Regions from separate parts of the Homo sapiens genome. Here region 1 is linked to region 2. The links come from fine-mapping of genetic effects on gene expression. A gene starts in region 2. The other region holds a variant in brackets. All regions are shown on one strand. Distances are between the middles of the regions.

Evidence for each region.
Region 1: its variant is fine-mapped to the expression of ZNF555 in cerebellar hemisphere (GTEx, PIP 0.97).

Annotation. Positions count from the first base shown.
Region 1 is chr19:3,275,349-3,286,861 of GRCh38, reverse strand. It overlaps CELF5 (CUGBP Elav-like family member 5), which reads right to left. Exons shown (of 13, transcript NM_021938.4): 4 at 10,878-11,006; 5 at 8,752-8,831; 6 at 5,517-5,663; 7 at 4,595-4,736; 8 at 4,364-4,510; 9 at 1,898-1,960; 10 at 837-920. Among named protein-coding and RNA genes, the nearest start is that of CELF5, 56 kb to the right of the region's middle. RefSeq lists silencers at 10,560-10,859, 11,090-11,219. The variant C/T (reference allele first, on the strand shown) is at 6,863.
Region 2 is chr19:2,836,916-2,848,428 of GRCh38, reverse strand. ZNF555 (zinc finger protein 555) reads right to left here and starts at 6,954. Exons shown (of 4, transcript NM_152791.5): 1 at 6,854-6,954. The coding sequence starts at 6,856. RefSeq lists silencers at 6,574-6,623, 6,664-6,963, 7,184-7,373, 7,384-7,493.

The DNA.
Region 1 (11,513 bases), 440 kb before region 2:
AGGGTTTCCCCGTGTTAGCCAGGATGGTCTCGATCTCCTGACCTTGTGATCCGCCCGCCTCGGCCTCCCAAAGTGCTGGGATTACAGGCGTGAGCCACCGTGCCCGGCCTTTTTTTTTTTTTTTTTTTTTGAGATGGAGTCTTGCTCTCTCACCCAGGCTGGAGTCCAGTGGGGAGATAGTAGCTCACTGAAGCCTTGACCTCCTGGGCTCAGTGATCCTCCTGCTCCAGCCTCCTGAGTAGCTGGGACTACAGGTGCACACCACTACACCTGGCCAATTTTTAATTTTTTTGTAGACATGGGGTCTTGCTAAGCCAGGCTGGTCTTGGACTCCTGGGCTCAAGTGATCCTCCCACCTCGGCCCCCAAAACGCTATGTAATTACAGGCGGGATCTACCGCACATGGCAAGAACTGTATGGATTTGAACCCTGACTGTCAGACTCCAGAATCGAATCCCTCCCTCCTTCGACAGCCTTGGCTTTACTGGGGAGGCCTCATTACCTGATACCTCATCGTGCCATGCCCCAGCCTCAAAAAGGGTTTCCTTTCCAAAAAATCCAGAGAATCACTCTTGGTTCTGGAGAGGGCTGGTAGGAAGTCACTGCTATTCCTACGGGGTCGGGGCGAGCATGGTTCTCTTTTCGGAGGAGGAAACAGAGAGGGAGATTCCCAGGGGTCAGCGGCTGCACCGGGACTCAACTCTGGCCTGTCCAGCCCCCAGGCCGCACTCTCAGCCCCGCGGGTCCCAGAGGCCCGGGCCAGACACGGAGCCTGCAGGTGGACAGGGCGGGCAGAGGGCGGGGCTGGCGCCCAGGGGAGGTTGCGGCCGCCTCACCTTCTCGCTGCTGCTGCTGCAGGAGGGGCGGCGGCTGGGGGACGCTGTGCGCGATGGGCGTGATGGCCGCGGTGGGGTACATGGCTGCGGAGACCGGAGCGAGACACAGGGCGAGGAGGGGCGTGAGGCCACGTGGGCGGCCTGGGCCGCTGGGCGGGGAGGGGGCGGGGCCATAAGAGGGTGGGGCCAAGGCAGGAGTGGGTGTGATCATGGCCTTTGTGGGGAGGGTTTGGGGGCGGGGCCAGGCCAGAGGGCGGGGCCAAGATCACAGACGAAACGGGGAGGGGCTATTGCCTGAGGGGCGGGGCCATGGTGGAGGGCAGGGCCAATACCGAGACGGGGCGGGGAAGGGGGGGTGGGGGCGGACCCCATGGCGTGAGGGGAGGGGTATAGGGGTTGGGCCACAGTAGAGGGCGGGGCCAAGGCTACAGGACAGTCCAGAGTGGGCGGGACCATTGCTTGAGGGGTGGGGTCACAGTGGAGGGCGGGGGCAAGACTGGGATGAAGGGCATGAGTGGGGCGGGGCCGTGACTTGATGGAGGGCTATGTGGGCAGGACCATGAGTTAAGGGGCGGGGCCGCAGCAGAGGGCGGGGTCACAGCCAGGCCTTAAGAAGTAGAGCCAGAGGTAGGGGCGGGGCTTTATCAGAGAGGCGTGGTCAGAGTAAAGGCAGGAAGTGAGGGGCGGGGCTAGGAGCTGCAGGAGGGAGGGTAAGGGGCAGGGCCGAGAGCTGGGGTTGGGTCAGAGCTAGAGACGTGGTCAAGGGGAATTCCCTCTCCCCAACACAGAACATGAGAGGGTAAGGCCATGGGTAAGCGCTGTCCTTAAAGGACAAGGGAAGGTCCTGTTTGCGGGTATAGGTGGTGGTGGGGTGGGACCAGTAACAGGGCCCGGGGTTGAATACAGGACAAGGGGCTAAGGGTGGGCCCTGAGGGGCGGGGCCAGAGGTAGGAGGCGCGGCTAGGCACAGAAGAACGACACGTCCGGGGCGGGCCCTGGGGGCGGGGCCCTAGGCGGGGGCGGGGCCAGGGCCCAGCGCGGGCACGCGGGCTGCCTCCTACCTGTGTACTGCTGGACTCCGGAGAAGGCAGGATGCAGTGTCTCGGCCACAGTCGGGCTCTGAGCTGCGGGCAGACAGAGGGGCTGAGTGGGGCGGGAGCAGCAGAAGTCTTCCATCCACCCCCGATCCTTAAGAGCCGCAAGGACAGCAACAAACACCCCGCCCAGCTTCTCCTCTGTGCTAAACCCTCTGTAGGACCAGGAAGCTGAGGCCGAGGAAGGTGAAGCCACTTGCACAGGGCCACTCAGATAGCAAATGGCAGAAGCTGAACTGGAATCCGGGTTTCTCGGACTCCAGAGAGAGATCACCATCGTCCCCATCTCCCTCTCCCTATCCCGACCCGGTTGCCTCCCAAGGGGGACCCTTCACTCCTCTCTACTCCCTGGATTCACCAGGACTTCAGCCTCCACCTCAAATCACCACCTGCCCCCATCCCCTGCCCCGTCTCCCTCTCCACATGAGTTTCCTCATCAGACACCCTGTAGCTCCCCCATCTAGCTGTAGCCTTCCTGCTACCGCTAGGGAAAGGGGTAGGGGAGGGAAGAAGTTGTCCAGGCCACCAAAGCTGATGATTCTGGGGAAAAATTCAGCCAAACAATTCTGCCCGAATGGAGAGTGTGCTGGAGGGCAGGGGATAGTGGTGGTGACTGTGACTTCAAAGGGGTGGCAGGAAGGAGTTCACTTTGTGGGCAAGAAGCAGTTCTGTATCTTCACTGTGGGAGATCCACAAGTCTGCATCTGTGACAAAATGGCAATTAACCGCCCCTGCACACACACACACACACGTGCACAGAGTGCATACAAAAACTCGTGAAATCAGCTGGGTGTGGTGGCTCACACTTGTGATCCCAACACTTTGGGAGGCCGAGGAAGGAGGATCGCTTGAGCCCAGGAGTTTCGAGACCAGCTTGGGCAACATAGCAAGACCCTCATTTCTTAAAAAATAAAATAAAATCGAAAATTAGCCAAGCATAATGGCACGTGCCTGTAGTCCCAGTGACTTGGGAGGCTGAGGTGAGAGGTGAGAGGATCGCTTCAGCCCAGGAGTTCGAGAGTTCAAGGCTGCAGCGAGCTATGATCACGCCACTGCACTCCAGCCTGGGCGACAGAGTGAGACTCTGTCGCTAAATAAATAAATGGTGAAATTTGAATACCGTCTGGAGTTGAATTAATTGTATGGTGCCAGTGTTAGTTTCCTGGGTTTGACAGTGACCTATGATTAGATAAGCTGCTGGCATCAGGGAAGCTGTGTGAAGGGTACCTGGGACTGCTCTGTGGTATTTTGGTAACTCCCTGTGAACCTCCAATCATTTCAAAATAAAATGTTAAGGCCAGTCACAGTGGCTCACACCTATAATCCCGGCACTTTGGGAGGCCTGCTTGAGCCCAGGAATTTGAGGCCAGCCTGGGCAACACAGCAAGATCCCGTCTGTACAAAAATTTAAAAATTAGCCGGGCGTGATGGCACATGCTTGTAGTCCCAGCTACAAGGAAGGCTGAGGTGGGAGGATTGCTTAAGCCCCAGAGATGGAGGCGGCAGTGAGCTGCGACGACACCACTGCACTCCAGCCTGAGTGACACAGTGAGACACTGTCTCTAAAACTAAATAAATAAAAATAATTAAAAAAATAAAAAGTTAGAAACAAATTCTCCTACATGGTGGAAAGACAGATAACTTACTTCACATAAATTAGATGTTGGAAGATGTTTGCCCTAAAATTGTAGGTGTAGCATAGAGAAAGGAAGGACCTCTGCTTCATGAAAGCAGGTGCAGCCTAAATCAGTGGGTCATTCATTCTGTGTTGAATGGATAAATGAATGAATCCAGGCATTGATATCTCCCCAAATGACACAGATGAATAATTAAGATTTATGGGCTGGGCGCAGTAGGTGAATCACCTGAGGTCAGGAGTTCGAGACCAGCCTGGCCAACATGGTGAAACCCCATCTCTACTAAAACTACAAAAATTAGCCGGGCATGGTGGCATGCGCCTGTAATCCCAGCTACTTGGGAGGCTGAGGCAGGAGAATCACTTGAACCTGGGAAGCGGAGGTTACAGTCAGCCAAGATTGTGCCACTGCAATGCAGCCTGGGCGACAGAGTGAGACCCTGTGTGAAGCCTTTTGCACACAGATTAAATTGTCAATGCAACCCTCTGAGGCTACTGATGTTATCTGCCCCATTTTCCAGATGAGCAAACTGAGGCTCAGGGACGTAAAGAGCCCATCCAGGGTCACTGAACTGGAATTTAAGCTCAGAAACATCCAGATGCACCGTTTTAATGTGTTATTACCCTGCCACGGCCTCCCTTCCTGTGTCCACAGCTCTTATCTGCTCAGCGGAGACACCCTTTTTCCTGCCCTTCTGTTCCCTGGGCACTGTGATGTAGGGACTCATACTTGTTCCAGAAACACCATCTTTATTCCCCACCACTCTCCTAGGCCCCAGAGGACGACCCCAATTTACCTGGGTAGGGCACAAGGCCATTGGCATAGACGGTTTCCAGGGCAGGGTGCCCACCTGGAAAGGGCACGACACCTGCAAAGCCATTGGTGATGGGAGCCACGAGGCCAGGCACAGCGGTGGTGCCCAGCAGCGGGGGTGAGTGCAGCCCTGCAGAGCGGAAGAGGGTCATGGGGAGGCCAGTTCTGGCTCCAGCCCTGCCCACCCATCCTTGGGTGCCTGGAGGAGGCTCACCAGAGGCAGGAGCGATGGGTGTGGCAGGCAGCCCGTTGAGGCTGACGGCGCCTATCTGCTGGATGTGACAGGGTGAGAAGGCCACGCCGGGACTCAGGTAGCTGCCCGAGGTGGACAGGACTGTTGTCTGCTGTTGCATGAGCTGGGGGTGAAGACATGTCACAGTTGGGGTGATATCTGCCCTGAGATCATGGCTTATGAGGGGAGGCTTGGTACCCCAGTTACTAGTGAGGAGGTCAGGCTGGGTATCTTGGCTCAGGCTGAGATCAGAATTGGAGCTCAGACTGGGATCAAGGCTCAGCCTGGGAGCAGAGATCGGTTCGGAAGTGAGGCTCAGGCTGAGATCAGGGCTCAATCTAGTCAGGAATTGGGGCTCAGCCTGGGATCAAGGCTCAGCCTAGGATCAGGGCTCAGTTAGAAAAGCGAGGCTCAGCCTGGGACTAAGGCTCAATCTAGGATCAAGGCTCGGTTAGGAAGTGAGGCTCAGACTGAGATCAAGGCTCCATCTAGGATGAGGGTTTAGTTAGAAATTGAGGCTCAGCCTGGGATCAGGGTTCAGTCAGGAGCTGGGGCTCAACTTGGGATCAGGTCTCAGCCAGGGTGGAGCTTGATCAGGTCAGGTCTCAGTTTGGGATCAGTCTGGATTTGGAGGTTCAGCCAGAATTGGGCCTAATTTAGACGTGGAGCATAGCCAGGTTCTGGGGCTCGGTCCAAGATTGGGTGTTACTGTGAGATTAGGGCTCAGTCTTCTGGATTTAGGGGCTCGGTCTGAGCTTGGTCTCAATTTGGAGTTGGGGTTCAGCCACGCCAGGAGAGGACCCTGAGTCAGGGAGATGGAGGGAGAGGCAGGAGCCCGACAGAGAGTAGACAGAGACTGAGAGAGACGGAGCCGGAGCCCCGAAGCTGTCACTGGGTCACTCACAGCCTGGGCGTAGGCACTGTAGGGGCTGAAGGGCAATGTGAGGGACGGCGTCAGGATGCCCAGCTGGCCCACCATCTGCTGCATGCGCCGGAGCGTCCGCTCCTTGTCCGTGTCGGCGAACTTGACCACCAGGCTGGAGGAGGCTCCCTGCAGGGGCAGCGGCGAGCAGGGAGGGAAACGGGCTGGGAGGTAGCCAGGACTCTGGGGTCCCTGGATTCATGTTAGCTCAGGCCTCCTGGGTGAGGGGTGTAATGCCAGTGGCTGTCAGCCATGTCCACGGGCCCCCACCCCAGGAGCCAGGGCCACAGCGAGGACCGCGTGGAGATCAGCATCCTGGGCCCAGCAGCATCTGCACAGGTGCAGCGCCCAGGCCTAGGAGGCTGTGATGGGGCACAGGTGGGGGCCCTGACTGTCAGCCACACACTCAAAACAGATGGAGAATCCCGCCGCTGGAGAACAGGGAGGCACAGCTGGAGGCACCTATGACTTCCGCTCACCTGAGAACAGGTGAGAAACCAGCTTCCGAAGGAAAACAGTGGGCTCAGGTGGACGAACCTGCCATTGTCACCCCACACCTGAAACTCCAGTCTCCAGAGAGGAACAACTGGGGCACAGATGGGTGAGCCTCCAATTCTCACCCACACCTGAGAACAGGTGAGACTCCAGCCACAGGAGAGGAACAAGGCGGGACAAGTAGATGATCCTGACTCTGTCCTCCATGCCCTGGAGCTAGCAGGCAGTTCGGACCCGGATTTTTTTTGTTTTGTTTTGAGACGGAGTTTCGCTCTTGTTGCCCAGGCTGGAGTGCAATGGCGCGATCTCGGCTCACTGCAACCTCTGCCTTCCAGGTTCAAGTGATTCTCCTGCCTCAGCCTCTTGAGTAGCTGGGATTACAGGTGCCCGCCATCACGCCCAGCTAATTTTTTTTTTTATTTTTAGTAGAGACGGGGTTTCACTATGTTGGCCAGGCTGGTCTCTAACTCCTGACCTCAAGTGATCCGCCCGCCTCGACCTCCCAAAGTGCTGGGATTACAGCCACCACGCCCAGCCCCAGCCCCAGATTTTTGTGCCCTTTGCAGGCAGATGAACCTGTGGCCCATCCACCCAGTGGACAGCGGACAGTAGCCACTGGTGGGGACTGGGGGCCCTGCTTTGCTGGGGCACAGACAGAAACCCATGTGACTGCCATCCCACTCCATGGCTGTCCAGGTGCCACAGGGCTGGGCTGAAATCCACCAACAGGCAGCCCTGGGCAGTCGAAGCAGCGGTGAGCCAGGGAGTGTCTGTCTGTGCAGTCAGGATGCTGCAACAGGTCCTGATATCGGTAACAAGAGAAGCCTGGTGGC[C/T]GGGCACAGTGGCTCATGCCTGTAATCCCAGCACTTTGGGAGGCCAAGGTGGGCAGATCACCTGAGGTCAGGAGTTCGAGATCAGCCTGACCAACATGGTGAAACCCCGTCTCTACTACAAATACAAAATTTAGCCAGGTGTGGTGGCGCGTGCCTGTAATCCCAGCTACTTGGGAGTCTGAGGCAGAAGAATCGCTTGAACTCGAGAGGTGGAGATTGCAGTGAGCTGAGATTGCCCCATTGCACTCCAACCTGGGCGACAGAGCGAGACTCTGTCTCAAAAAAATAAAAGAGAGGCCTGAGGCAGGGGCCAGGAGGCCATTCCCACCCCTCACAAACCAGCCCACACCCCGACTCTGGGGCTCAAGAAGGAAAATATCTTCCCCTTCGACCAGCTCCTCCCTGGTGAGCTGGCTCCCACAGGATGCACCCTGTTGCCTCCCTGTCTTCGCTGACATGCCTCCTCCGATAGAGAACTCACTCCTCCAGACGCCTACCAGCCCTGTCCTGGGACATCTCTGAGCTTGGGAACACTTGCCCTTGTGCTGAACTAAGCCCCTCCCCTGGGTTTTAAGAGCTGAGAGAGGTGGCTTGTTCCTCTCAGGTCCCATCTTCCTTGTAGCAGATTCGGAGATGTGGGTGCAGGAACAATGGCTTCTGGGGACTCCTTCCTCGGGGGAAGGGCAGTCCCCAGTGCCTCCTTGGTCCTCCCCAGCCTCTCACTGCTGCAGACTCTGGGACCTGTCCCCAATCCCCACCCCTCCCTCAACCAGTGAGTCAACAGGCCCCCCATCCATTCTCACCCTAATGTCTGTTTTCTGATCAGCCCTCCTCCCTGTCCACCTGGCCCCAGCTCAGGCCTCCTCCTACCTCAGCTGGACCTTGGCCTAGCCTCCTCTTTGGCCTCCCAGCCTCTAGTCTTGCACCCTGCCCATCCTCTACATTAGCCCCAAAGGGATATTTGCAACCGACCTGGCCTGTCTCCTCCCTTGCTCTAAACCGTCTGTGGCTCCCCACTGCCCTAGGAGAAAGTCCAGGCTTCTCAGCCTCGCATTGCGGCCCCATCTTCTATGGCTCCTCTGGGCTACCTGTTGCCACCTCCCAGCCTTTCTTTTTGTCAGGGCCTCTCCTGGCCTCAGCAAATCCAACCCAGGTGTCATCCCCTTAGGATACCCTTACATGTACACACATACACACTCACCCACTCACAACCTATACTCACACAGACCTGCATATACTCACAAACGTGTACACAATCACCCACAATACTGACACACTCACAGTCATGCACACACACAAACACACACACACACACACACAAACCTGCCCACAAATGCACCTGCAGATGCACACACATGTGCTTCCTCCCCCGTGGCCCAGGCATACTCACACACACGCTCACACACATAGAAACACACATGTACACTCTCATACACGCACACGCACTAGTATCTCTACACTAGCACACAATGGCACACTTATCCATACATATTTACGCACACCCCTCGTGCACACAGCACTCACATAACACTCGCCTACTAGTAATGACACACTCAAACACGCACTCACACACACACATGCATGCAGTCTCGGGCACACTCACACCCAGACATGCACACTCACCCACACGCACACACTTGTAATACATCCATGCACACACATACACTTCGCTTGCCTACTCACCTCCACATCTGCACACACTCACACGTGTATACCCACTCCAGGGACCACAGCCAGGGACTGCGCCTCTTTCTCCACCTGTGCCCCCTCTGAAGGACAGCCAGGGGCTACCGGATGACAGCGACGGTAGGAATATGGCCTGTTTCATCCCTGTCCCCCTCACCCCTTTCCCACCCCCACCCCCACGGCCAAGGGCAGCTCCAACTCACCGGCATGGTCTGGCTCCCATGCAAGGCGTGGATGGCCGCCTGCGCCTCCGTGTGGGAGGAGAACTTCACGAAAGCACAGCCTGCTCCAAGAGAAGAAGAAGAGGTAGAGGGTGATGGGGTCACAGGACTGGCTGAGCGGGGGCCACAGGAGAGGGGACACAGAGACCTACATGGCCAGTGTCAGACACATGCAGCCAGAGAGAACTGATAACAGAAAGACAGCCAGCCGTTTGCTCAGACGGACAGCTGGACAATCAGCCAGATCAAGGGTCAGAATGGAGGAGAATCACACAGACAGACAGCCACAGTTAGACAAAGACCTGGTCACCCACACAGCCAGCCAGGCTAATGCAGACAGACAGCCACACACACAGAGACCACCAGACACAGGTGAATGGAAACACAGTCCCACCGACAAAGTCCATAGAACATACAGAGGCCACTGCACCTGGCTCCAGACTGGTAGAGTACTATGGAAGGGCCAGCCATATTGTGGAGGGAGGGGGTGGAATGTTCTGGAATTACATAGTGGTGATGGTTGCACGGTTTTATGAATAGAAAAAAAAAGCACTTCATTGTACATTTTTAAAGGGTGAATTTGGTAGGATGTGGAAGACATCTCAATTTTTTTCTTTTTTTGAGTCAGAGTCTTGCTCCGTCACCCAGGCTAGAGTGCAGTGGCGTGATCTCGGCTCACTGCAACATCTGCCTCCCGGGTTCAAGCAATGCTCTTCCTCAACCTCCCGAGTAGTTGGGATTACAGGCGCCTGCCACCACGCCCAGCTAATTTTTGTATTTTTTGTAGAGACGGGTTTCACCATCTTGGCCAGGCTGGTCTTGAACTCCTGATCTCGTGATCCACCTGCCTCAGCCTCCCAAAGTGCTGGGATTACAGGCGTGAGCCACCACGCCCAGCCCTCAATTTTAAAAAGGAAGAACCAGGTAATGGTCTGAAACCGTCAGACACATTCAGTTCTAGTAAGGTAAGAAAGACCAGAGTGGAGTCGGTCCCACATGATGAGCTCTGTGGACAGAGACCGCCAGACACCGTCATTTGGACTCTCAGGCAGGAAGATAGACAGACAGACACAACCAGAGACCACCAGTCAGTCATATGGACAAATCACATAGACAGAACCAGGAGGAAACAGTTTTACGAATAGTCAGGTGGAGGAATCTGAGACCACAGGGCACAGGTAACTCTGTCCGTGGAGAAGCCCCGCCCCTCCCCAGACCCCGCCCCATCACAAGCCACGCCCCTGCATCCCTACTCACAGGCAGCACCTGGAGAAGCCCCCCCGCCTCCCACCAGACACCGCCTCATCCCAAGGTACTGCCCCTGCATCCCCATCCATAAGCAGCCCCTGGAGAAGCCTTGCCCTTCCCCAAGGCCACGCCTCTGCATCTCCGCCCACCCCACCGCAGCCCCGCCCCTCTTCAGGGCCCGTCCCCACAGCCAGCATGCAGAGAGAGCATGCAGGTAGGATCAAGCGGGACCAGTCTCTGCTCCACCCAACCCCTGTGAACCAGCTTCTCCCAGCCAGCCCCAGCCTCCTATTGGCCTGGCCCCGCCCCACCTGGCCAGCCCCACCCCCTATATGCTCAGCCCCGACCCTTCCCAGGGCCTCTCCCCCTGGAGCCAGTCCCTCCTAACTCTACGTATTTCACCCCTCCCTGCAGTACCTCCCCTACCCAAGACCCCACCCTTGCAGCCTCACCCACAGACTTCAGCTCTGGAGAAGCCTCGGGCCTCTCCAGGGCTACATCCTCAGAGCCAGCTCCTCCCCACCCCTGCAGCCACACCTCTCCCCAAGGGCCCACCTTTGGAGAAGCCCCACCCCTCCCCAGGGCCCTGCCCCACAGGCCCCGCCCTCAGAGGCAGCTCCTCCCCACCCTGCAGCCCCATCCCCTCCCCAGGCCCCGCCCCTGCAATTCCGCCCCTCTCCAAGGCCCCGCCCCTGCAGCCTCACCCACAGACTCCACCCCTGGAGAAGCCCCGCCCCTCCCCAGGGTCCCACCCCAGAGCCAGCTCCTCCCCATGCTGCAGGCCCCACCCTCCCCACAGGCCCCGCCCCCAGAGCTAGCCCGGCCCCTCTCGCAGTCCCGCCCCGGCCCCCGCCAGTCACCTTTGCTGCTGCCGTCAGGCCCCCGGAGCACGGTGCACTCGTCAATGACCCCGAAGGGCTGGAACAGCCGCAGCACGTCCTCCTCCGACTGCTGCTTGTTCAGCATCCCCACGAACAGCTTCCGGTCCCCTGTGGGCGGCGACACCCACCTCAGCCGAGTCCCCGGCCTCCGGGAGGGCCTCCGGGATTCCTCCCTCCCTCCAGCAGAGTGGAGGCGGCAGGGCAGGAAGACGCGGCGCCCGGGCCCTGCCGGCTCCGGTTCTGCGCGTGCGAGGGAGGACCCAGCCGCGCCCTTTCCCTGCCCCGGATCTCTCCACCCTCCCACGGGCCCTGCACGCTCCCATCTCCCGGCCTTTGCCCAGGTGGCGCCCCCGCCTGGAATGCCCTCCCTGCAGTCTTTTGGGGTCTCTGCTCCACTGCTCCCCCTCCAGGCGGAGATGACCTTTCCCTCTGGTGCACTCAGAGAGCCCGCACCGAGTACTAGGGCTAGGAGCTGCCTCGCCGGGCCTGGGTCCCTGTCTGTCTGTCTGTCTGTCTTTCTGTCTGCTCCCCGGACCTGCCAGGCGGAGGTGGGCACTGATGGTCCCCGCACTTTCACGGTGCCCAGCAGAGGCCCCTGCCCAACTTTGTCGGGAT
Region 2 (11,513 bases):
TGTAATCCCAGCACTTTGGGAGGCCAAGGCAGGTGGATCACGAGGTCAGGAGATTGAGACCATCCTGGCTAACACGGTGAAACCCCGACTCTACTAAAAATACAAAAAAATTAGCCGGGCGTGGTGGTGGGCGCCTGTAGTCCCAACTACTCGGGAGGCTGAGGCAGGAGAATGGCGTGAACCCGGGAGGCGGAGCTTGTAGTGAGCAGAGATGGCGCCACTGCACTCCAGCCTGGGCGACAGAGCCAGACTCCAGCTCAAAAAAAAAAAAAGAAAAGAAAACAAAGAGCAGCGTTTGGTTTTTGTTTTCTTCTCCAGGTAGGAGAAAGGGCCCCCATGTTCTGAAAGGTAAGCTTTGGGTGAGGAAAATGGTAAAAGTTTGTGTTGCATTGGGAGGGAAAAGAAAGTTAATTACCAAGGCTGGAGCACAACTTTAGGTAAACCCTGGGGAGGCAGGGGACACTCCGTGCTTTTTTAAAACCTGTTGCTGGTTAAAAAAAAGGCTGGAGTGTTCCCTGCTTCCCCTTGGTTTACCTCCTGACCAGCCATGGTCTTCCCTGCTAGCATAATGCTATCCCTGTAAATGCTGAACTGCCAGCGGTTTCTTGTGACGTGGTCCCCCAGAAAGATATGTCCGTGTCCTAATTCCTGGTACCTGTGACTATAACCTTATTTGTAAATAGGATCCTTGCAGATGTAATCAAGTAAAATGACATCATCTAATCCAATGGGCCCTACTCCAATATGACTAGTGTCTTTATTTTTTATTTTTTTTAAATTTTTTTCAGATTAAGTAACTTTATTAGCATCAGTTCAGCTAATAAATGCTGAAGGCAGGATTTGAACCTGCATCTACTATATTCCAAGGATTTTTTCTCCAATTTTTTAACTGTGGTAAATACATATAGCATACAATTTACCATCTTAACCATTTTATTATACTTTAAGTTTTAGGGTACATGTGCACAATGTGCAGGTTAGTTACATACGCATACATGTGCCATGTTGGTGTGCTGTACCCAGTAACTCGTTATTTAACATTAGGTATATCTCCAAATGCTATCCCTCCCCCCTCCGCTGACTGGTGTCTTTATAAGAGGAAAATGTCACATGAAGACAGAAACACACACGGAAGGTGGCCACGTGGAAGATGGAGGGAGAGACTGAATTATGGTGCCACAAGCAAAGGAACACTTGGGGCTACCAGAAGCTCTAAGAGACGAGGAATACTACCGCATCGGCATGTGTGATAAAAATGAGAGAAAATGGTAAAATATTTGTCACTTTAAAAGCACTACAGGGATCATCTCAATCAGTTTTTTGTTTTGTTTTTTTAAGTGACAGACACAACTTCTTTGCTCTTTGCCCCTGGTGTATGGATTGGAATTTAAACTCTAAGTATTAAGATTAGGTCTCCACAACTGATTTTTTACTATCATTTTTCCTATTGGAGGTTCAGGGAAAAGGGAAACAAATGAAAAGAGAGGCAATCTCTAAGTGGAGATACACTTTTGGAATGTGAAGTAGTAGTTTCTAGTTTGTTAATGCGCTCTTATGAAAACCTATTTCTGACAACCTCAAGAGTTGATGGTTTTCAAACCACATGTGCATATTTTTAACTGTCAATTTGGACTCTAAGATTCACGAGACCAAAAGCGCTTAGGAAACTCTTGCTTGCAACTTGATCTTGGAACACAGCTGTCCAACCCGGCAATACCTAGCTTTACTGCTGCAGAAGCAAAGCCTTCGGTGTTTTATGGAATTCTGAACTCAGATCCCAACGGCGTGGACTTGACTGTAAGCTAAAACCTGACACTGCCCACTGCTAATTCATCCTCACTATGTCCACTGCTAACTCAGCCTTCACTATGCTGACCTGACAGCAGGGCTAGGCTCAATGAACAGGACTCTAATTCAGGAAACACTGCAGAGTTAGACACTCCCGGGTAAGGCCCTGAACTACGAAAAACATCAGGGGTGCTGGCTGGTCCATGTGGCTCACTCAGTTGCCCACAGTGAAGGACTGGCTTGACCTTGGATGGAACTGTCTGATTCAGAGCTGTGACCGAAGCGCTCCCCTCTTCCTGAAGGAAGTGTTGCATGCAGCTGTGAGTGCTCTGAATTCAGGTTGGCTGCTAAGCCTCTGATCACATCCGACAACCCTGAGACAGCAGCAAGTGGCCCCAGTTCCTGAACTTCCCACAAAGGACATCTCCAGGTGTCGTCCATACTGGAGAGGTCAATGAACTGGTATCACAGACATGCAAAACTGCTTGAAAATGATGCCTCAGGCAGAGCCTCTGAAACTGAGGACTAAACTGAATTATTCGGTCTACACTGAGAACCCTAGGACAGGAGGCCCACAGTGGGAGGTCACACTGGGAGCCCTGCTAACCCGACTGCCTGACCAATGTTAAGTCCTGCTTGGGGTGTCCCGACCATTGCAAACAATGTGCTTCCAAGGGGACTGACTACCTGTCCCCTAGGGGGTTGGACTTGTTTTGTACTTACCCTGGCACTCAGGGCACTGCCTTGTCCCTGGAAGACACCCAGGTCTAAGTTTGACTTACTGGCCAGAGTTATGCTGTGCAGGAATTGGTGCCTCTCTCCAGTAAAAAAATAGTAACGGGGGAAGGAAGAGAATACTACAGAAACTTAATAAGCCACCTGGCTTTCTAAGACCTTTGTGGTCCAAGCATATGAAAAAATGCTCAACACCACTAATCATCAGAGAAATGCAAATAAAAAGCACGATGAGATACCATCTCACACCCGTCAGAATGGCTGTTATTAAAAAGCTAAAAAATAACAGATGTTGGCAGGGCTGTGAAAGGGAATGCTTACACATGGTTGGAGGGAATGTAAGTTAGTACAACCTCTATGAAAAGCAGTATGGAGATTTCTCAAAGAACTAAAAACAGAACCACCATTCAACCCAGCAATCCCACTACTGGGCATCTACCCAAAGGAAAAGAAATCATTCTACCAAAAAACACATCACTTGTGTGTTCACTGCAGCAGCATTCACAATAGCAAAGACATGGAATCAACCTAGGTGACCAAAGACAGTGCACTAAAGAAAATGTGGTCCATCTATACCATGGAATACTACACAGCCATAAAAAAGAACGAAATCATGTCCTTTGCAGCAACATGGATGCAGCTGGAGGCCATTATCCTCAGCAAACTCATGCAGAAACAGAAAACCAAATATGGCATGTTCTTACTTATAAGTGGGAAGTAAATCTTGGGTAGACATGGACATAAAACTGGAAACAATAGACGCTGGGGATTCCAAATGGAGGGACAGAGGGGGAAAGGGCTGACACCCTTCCTCATGGCTACCATGTCCACTATCTGGGTGACAAGCTCAATGGAAGCCCAAATCTCAGCATCATGCAATATTCCCTTGTAACCTGCACATGTGCCCATGAATCTGAAATAAAAATGGAAATTAAAAAAATAATGATTCCATTGCAGCCAATGGAATTTACCTTACCTGGCTAAGTCCAGGAGCCCTAAACAGCACAAGTGAAATCATTACTGCAGTGTGGTCTCCTCCTACTTCATAGGGGCCTCCCATAATAATTCTGTGGTAGAGACACCTGTGCAGTGGGCTAGGGGGTGGACGCAGGAAGAGCCAACCCAAAGGCCTGAGGGCCCCTAACCTTAGAAAGTCCTGCCTGCAAAGTTGGCCCTTGGCTGGCATAAGCTAGCCTGGATTTGGGGAGGGTTCTCATCCCAATAGAGGAGTTGCTTATTGTGCTGAAACTGTTTATGCAACAATGTGTTTACCCTAAAGATCTGCTTTCCTCCTGGGTGTCTGAAATCTTGGCACAGCCAGGCACAGGGGACCTCTGTGACCAGCCGCCAATTTTAAAACACCCTGGTTGGGGGCATGGTGGTTCACACCTATAATTCCAGCACTCGGGGAGGCTGAGGCGGGCGGGCCACCTGAGGTCAGGAGTTCGAGACCAGCCTGGCCAACATGGCAAAACCCTGTATCTGCTAGAAATACATAAAAATGGCCAGGTGCAGTGGCTCCCGCCTGTAATCCCAGCACTTTGGGAGGCTGAGGCGGGCAGATCAACTGAGGTCAGGAGTTCGAGACCAGCCTGGCCAATGTGGTGAAAGCCCATTTCTACTAAAAATACAAAAATTAGCTGGGCGTGGTGGCGGATGCCTGTAATCCCAGCTACTCAGGAGGCTGAGGCAGGAGAATTGCTTGAACACAGGAGGCAGAGATTGCAGTGAGCCAAGTTCCTGCCACTGCACTCCAGCCTGGGCGAAAAGGGTGAAACTCCCTCTTTAAAAAAAAAAAAAAAAAAAAGAAAAGAGAGAGAGAGAAAGGAAAGAGGGAGAAAGAAAAAAAAGAAAAGAAAAGAAAGATAGATTAGGCAGGCATGGTAGCAGGTGCCTACAGTCCCAGCTACTTTAGAGGCTGAGGCAGGAGAATCACTTGAACCCAGTAGGCAGAGATTGCAATGAGCCGAGACAGCACCACTGCATTCTAGCCTGGGCAATAGAGCGAGACCCTGTCTCAAAACAAAACAAAACAAAAAAACAAAGTAAAGGGACACAGCCCTGAGGCAGCCCCTGTGTTCGGGGAAATCTGATCAGTGCCAGGGCCGGCATTGCAGAGGATAAACACTTTAATATAAGGAGCTGGGACAAATTGTCATCTAAACAAGAAAAATATCTTGTATTCTACCTATTTCAGGAACAACAAAAAATGTATTATAGAATTAAGGTAAGGGTACTGCAGTATTGGAAGCAGAACAGAATCATCCACCGTCAAAAATTCTCTACCATGTCAAGGAGAATAACATATTTTGGTAAATTTGTATAATTTATCTGCAACATGTTTCGTGGCAATGTATTCATTTTTCTGCACGTATGGTGGAAAGGAGATTTTCTCTGTTTCTCTGAGACTCTTCTCCCCAGTAACATTTTGAAGTTTAGGCCCTGGAATCCTATTTATTGTCATTCAAAAGAAAAGAACAAGGCTGGTCGAGGAGGGAGAATCACCTGAGCTCAGGAGTTCGAGACCAGCCTGGGTAACAGAATGAGACCCCATCCCTAGAAACAAAAAAATACAAAAGCTTAGGCATGGCGGCACACACCTGGAGTCCCTGTGTTCAGAAGGCTGAGGCAGGAAGATTGCTTGAGCCCAGGAGGTGGAGGCTGCAGTGAGCTGTGATCGCACCAGTGCACTCCAGCATGGGCAACAGAGCTCCCAAAAAAATAATAGTAATAAAAGAAAACAGAAAATAACAGATCTGAGAAACGACACACACTCCAGGGAATGTTTAACAAATGGAATGTAAGACACAGATTTTAATTTTTTTCCTGAAATTCACCCCGTTGGAAGTTTTTTTTTTTTTTTGAGACGGAGTCTCGCTCTGTCACCCAGGCTGGAGTGCAATGGCGCGTTCTCAGCTCACCGCAACCTCCGCCTTCTGCGTTCAAGTGATTTTCCCGCCTCAGCCTCCCGAGTAGCTGGGACTACAGGCACCCGCCACCACGCCCAGCTAATTTTTGTATTTCTAGCAGAGACGGGGTTTCTCCATGTTGGCCAGGCTGGTCCCCAACTCCTGACCTCAAGTAATCTGCTCCCCTCGGCCTGTCACAGTGCTGGGATGACAGGCTTGAGCCACCGCGCCCGGCCTGGAAATATTTTATCTTCCAACTTCTACTAATTAAATGTACGTTTCACTTCCTAAAAACTGCTGACTCGAAAAAAGGAAAATCTTTTCACAGTGACAAACCCAGGGAGGGGTCAAGTCTGGCCAGGCTACCACGACGGACGCCCTCCCACCCCCAACTCAGGTGTTGCCTCAGCAAGGAATCCCATTGCTAGTACTCAAAACAGAACTGAGAAACGTCTTCAAATCCACACTTTCTAGGGAACCGTGAAAGAATATATTTCCGTGGTTTTAGCCCCCTCGTTTGCAGTCAGTTGCTACAGCAGTCCGAGGACACTAATGCACCAGCCTCCCGGGCGTCCCCGCTGTGGGTCTGCGTGCGTTTGCTTTTGGGGTCCTCGCTCTCCCTTGTTTCTCTAGTCTTTTCAGTTACTTTTCTTCCTTGTGTGTGAGAGCCCAGGGACCAGGAACCCTTGTTTTTTTTCCCCTTACCTACCCCAGGCATCTTGGGGTCAGAGGGGACAAGAAGTCCTCAAGAAGGAAAACCGGGACTCAGGGGAGGAAACCTCGCACGCCCCAGGGGCTGCCTTTGCAGGTGGGGGCGTCTCCGCCCCCGCCGAGGCCCCACCGCTCCCGGGCTGTCCCGGGAGGAACCCAGGGTCCCCCAGAGACCGCGGCCGGAGGCGCGGGGCCTCCAAGGAGCTGAGCCGCGGGAGCGCGAGCGGAGGCGGCACCGACCAGGGACCCGCACCCCAGGAGGCACCGCGGCGTCGGCCCCAGGGCGGGTCCCGGGGGAGCCTGGACCGCACCTCGGGGTCTCGGGCGACTCTGCCTCCCGCGGCCCGGGGGTCCCGAAGCCGCAGCGAAACGCTCCGAGGCGTCGCGGCCCCGGGCGGGGCGTGGGGGGTCGGGAGCGCAGGGACGCGGGGACCCCGGGACGACGGGGACGGAGTCGGGCTCCGGGCGCCGCTCCCCGCTCTGCAGCCTTGGGGCCAGAGGCGGGCGGGGACCCGGAGCTCGGAGCGCCCTAGCCGCGACCTCAGCGCGGGAGGCGGGGCCGGGCGGGACCCCCGGGGCCCAGGCTCCCGTCCTGCGCCGCCCTCGCCGGGGCCGCCCCCCGCGTCCCTCAGCTCCCCCCAAGCCGCGGTCTCGGGCGGTCGCCGGTTCCTGCTGCCCCGCACCGGGATCCTCTCCTGCGCCACACTCACCATGTCCCGGGGCGATTTCTTCGCTACCGGCGCAGGTGAGCGCGACAGGAACCGGGACGCCAGGGACCGCTAGGGGCAGGCGGGGCACTCACGGCTAGGACAGAGGCGTCCCGTCCCAGGGGCCTGATTAGACAGAGCTCGGGAAGCCGCGCTTCTGATTGGACAGTGCTGCCAACGTCGGCGACTCTGATTGGAGAATTCCCCAGTCCGTCCCCTGGCGCTGTAAATTGGGCAGTTCCCCGGATTCCGATTGGGCGTCCCTCATTGGATACTTGTCTCGGCCCCGCCCCCGCCCGTCCTGACTGGGTAGTTCCCTAGGGCCCACCCCCTGCCGGTGAGTGACGGGAGCGTTGCGAACACGCGTGGCTGTCCCGCCCTGCGGGGACACTGGCTTCTGGGCGAACTGGTTTCAGCCCGGGGCGGAATCGCCCTCTCCCCGCAGTTCGGGCGCCCCGCCCGCGTCCTCCTCCGGGACGGGCGTGGGAACTCCAGACTAGTTTCCTCACGAGGCGACCCCTTGTCCGGACAGGAGGTGGATGCAAGCGGGCGGCCCGGGCCTGGCAGGGCGAACGGGGGCTGGGCGCCGGGTCCGAAGGGCCGAGACCTACGTGGGGGCGGGACCCGCAGACGTGACGTCATCGCGCTGCGGGCGACATGGAGACCCCGCCCAGGGGGCTGCGAATCCGGAGACCCGGTCTGGGGGAGGCCGAACCCAAAGCCTGGCAGGGGGCAGGAGCTTTGCTCAAATCAACCAGAAGATATGAGATGTTCATTAAAACCCTCACATTTGGCTGGGCGCAGTGGCTCACGCCTGTAATCCCAGCACTTTGGGAGACCGAGGTGGACGGATCATCTGAGTTCAGGAGTTTGAGACCATCGTGGCCAATATGGTGAAACCCTTTCTCTACTAAAAATACAGAAATCAGCCCGGCGTGGTGCCGGGCGCCTGTAATCTCAGCTACTGGGGATGCTGGGGCAGGAGAATTGCTTGAACCCGAGAGGTGGAGGTTGTAGTGACCCGAGATCGCCCCACTGCAGTCTAGCCTGGGCGACAGAGTGAGACTCCATATTAAAAAACAAAAAAACTCTCAAGTTCATATTTTAAACTCTAAGGAAAATGTTTTCAGATCATTTTTTTAAGTACATCCCCCCAAAATTTGGAAGATTGAAAAGCTGGCCGGGCGCTGTGGCTCACGCCTGTAATCCCAGCACTTTGGGAGGCCGAGGCGGGCGGATCACCTGAGGTCAGGAGTTCAAGACCAGCCTGCCCAACATGGCAAAACCCTGTCTCTACTAAAAATACAAAATTAGCCGGGCGTGGTGGCGCGCACCTGTAATCCCAGCTAGGGAGGCTGAGGCAAGAGAATCGCTTGAGGCCGGGCACGGTGGCTCACGCCTGTAATCCCAGCACTTTGGGAGGCCGAGGCGGGCGGATCACGAGGTCAGGAGATCGAGACCATCCTGGCTAACACGGTGAAACCCCGTCTCTACTAAAAAATACAAAAAAATTAGCCAGGCCTGGTGGCGGGTGCCTGTAGTCCCAGCTACTCGGGAGGCTGAGGCGGGAGAATGGCGTGAACCCGGGAGGCAGAGGTTGCAGTGAGCCGAGATCGCGCCACTGCACTCCACCACTCCAGCCTGGGTGACAAAGCGAGACTCCGTCTCAAAAACAAACAAACAAACAAACAACAACAACAAAAACAAAAAGAATCGCTTGAACCCAGGGAGGCAGAGGTTGCAGTGAGTCAAGATCATTCCACTGCACTCCAGCCTGGGGGACACAGCAAGACTCCGTCTCAAAAAAAAAAAAAAAAAAAAAAGGAAGTCTATAATATTGCACAACAGGAACGTATCTAACGCCACTGAACTTTAGACTTAAAAATGATGAACATGGTAAATATTTGTTATTTGTATTTTACTACAATTTTTAGATGTTATATTTAAAACAGAAAAGGCTATATTTCTAAGGATATTGAATCCCTATTTTAACTGATATAAGAAAAACACGCAAAAGTTTAAATGAATTGGATTGAACCTTAGGAGGGAAGTGTTTTTTTTTTAAATTTTTGGTTTTTTCAGTCTTGCTCTGTCACCCAGGCTGGAGTGCAATGGCAGGATCCCGACTCACTGTAAACTCCACCTCCCGGGTTCAAGTGATTATCGTACCTCAGCCTTCCGAGTAGGTGAGACTACAGACCTGCCCCGCCACACCCAGCTAATTTTTTTGTTTTTTGTTTTTTTGAGACGCAGTTTCGCTCTTGTTGCCCAGGCTGGAGTGCAATGGCGAGATCTCGGCTCACTGCAACCTCTGCCTCCCAGGTTCAAGCGATTCTCCTGGTTCAGCTTCCCGAGTAGCTGGGACTACAGGCACCTGCCATCATGCCTGGCTAATTTTGTATTTTTAGTAGAGACGGGGTTTCTCCGTGGTGGTCGGGCTGGTCTCGAACTCCCAACCTTATGTGATCCACCCGCCTCGGCCTCCCAAAGTGCTGGGATTACAGGTGTGAGCCACCACGCCTGGCCTACTAATTTTTATTTTTTTAGTAGAGATGAGGTTTCACCATGTTGGCCAGGCTGGTCTCAAACTCTTGACCTCAGGTGATCCACCTGCCTCGGACTTGCAAAGTGCTTGGATTACAGGTGTGAGCCACCACACCCAGCCTTCAATTTTTTTTAAAAAAAGGAAAAACGATTGTGATAGGCCTGAAAACACTGAATACACTTAATAGACAGGGGCTGAAAACCAAACACAGTTAATGGTTATTCATTTCAGAAAACTCCATAGCTTAAGTGGTTGTTCAAATTCTGATATTGACATTTCATTTAGAAACAATTTTTAAAATTTATTTTTATCTTTCCTAGGAAGGTTTTACACACTTTTATAAAAATTAATGTTTAGAGGACTGACATAGGAAAGCAGCTTCCAGTTAAAAATAGTGTGCCCGGGCTCGGTGGCTCACGCCTCTAATCCCAGCACTTTGGGAGGCTGAGGTGGGTGGACAACCTGAGGTGAGGAGTTTGAGACCAGCCTGGCCAACATGGTGAAAGCCCCATCTCTAATAAAAATACAAAAAAAATTAGCCGGGCGTGGTGGCGCATGCCTGTAGTCCCAGCTGCTTGGGAGCTGAGGCAGGAGAATCGCTTGAACCCAGAGGCAGAGGTTGCAGTGAGCCGAAATCTCACCATTGCACTCCTGCCTGGGCAACACAGTGAGACTCCATCTCAAAAAATAAAATATAATTGCTGGAGGGAGATAACAAGACTGAAAACAGTACAGTCAGGAGACTTCTAAGTCAACCCTTCTCAAGAATATGCTGGAAGTTACAGATGCTTTCCCCAAAAAACACATCAATGCACCAGCACACAAAGTTGTTCTCAAAGTTGTTCACAGAGCCCCTAAAGAAACTTACTCATCAACCCAATAGGGTCTAGACTGACCATGGATCAAGGATCTCTAAGGAAAAGCAACATGTTCCATTTGGGTGAAAGGAGATCTGACGGGCAACCTCCCTCATTAGCTCAAGGAAAAAGGGAACATTCACAGGAAAGTTAGATGAGTCCTAAGAGAAAATTTGTAAAATTTTTTTGAGACAGGGTCTTGCTTTGTCACTCAGGCTGCAGTGCGGTGGTATGCTCATAGCTCACTGCAGCCTCAGCCTCCTGGGCTCAAGCGGTCCTTCCACCTCAGCCCCCAGAGTAGCTGGGACTACAGGCGTGAGCCACCATGCCTGGCTAATGTTTGTATTTTTTGCAGAGACAGGGTCAATGTTGCCCAGGCTGGTTTTGAACACCTGGGCTCAAGTGATCCTCCCACCTCAGGCTCCCAAAATACTGGGATTGCAGTTGTGAGCCACTACACCCAGCTTTCCAAGAGAACATTTGGAAAACAGTTCCCCTGCTTGGTGGCCTGGCAAATGAGGTGTGGCTTTGTACAGGGTGCTCAAGGTCAAATCCAGAGTCCACTACTTTTTTTTTTTTTTTTTGAGACAGAGTCTCACTGTCACCCAGGCTAGAGTGCAATGGCACCATCTCGGCTCACTGAAACATCAGCTATTCTCATGCCACAGCCTCCTGAATAGCTGGGCCTAGAGGCGTGCACCACGACGCCCAGATTTTTTTTTTTTTTTTTTTTTGAGACAGAGTTTCACTCTTGTTGCCCAGAGCTGGAGTGTAATGGTACTGTCCCAGCTCACAGCAACCTCCACCTCCCGGGTTCAAGCGATTCTCCTGCCTCAGCCTCCGAGTAGCTGGGATTACGGGCATGCACCACCATGCCGGCTAATTTTGTATGTTTAGTAGAGATGCGGTTTCTCCATGTTGGTCAGGCTGGTCTCGAACTCCTGACCTCAGGTGATCCGCCCATCTCGGCCTCCCTAATTTTTGTATTTTTTGGTAGACATGGGGCTTCACCATGTTGGCCAGGCTGGTCTCGAACTCCTGACCTCAAGTGATCCACCCACCTCAGCCTCTCAAAGTGCTGGGATCACAGGTGTGAGCCACTGTGCCCAGCCCAGATTCTACTCCTTTCTAATTGTGTGACCTTGAGCAAATTATTTCCGTTTTGTCTTCTGTAAAATGGAATGTGAATAGTGATTATCTCATGGGGTCGTGAGGGCTAAATGAAGAACCACATGGAAGTACTTGGCTGGTGCTTGGTATA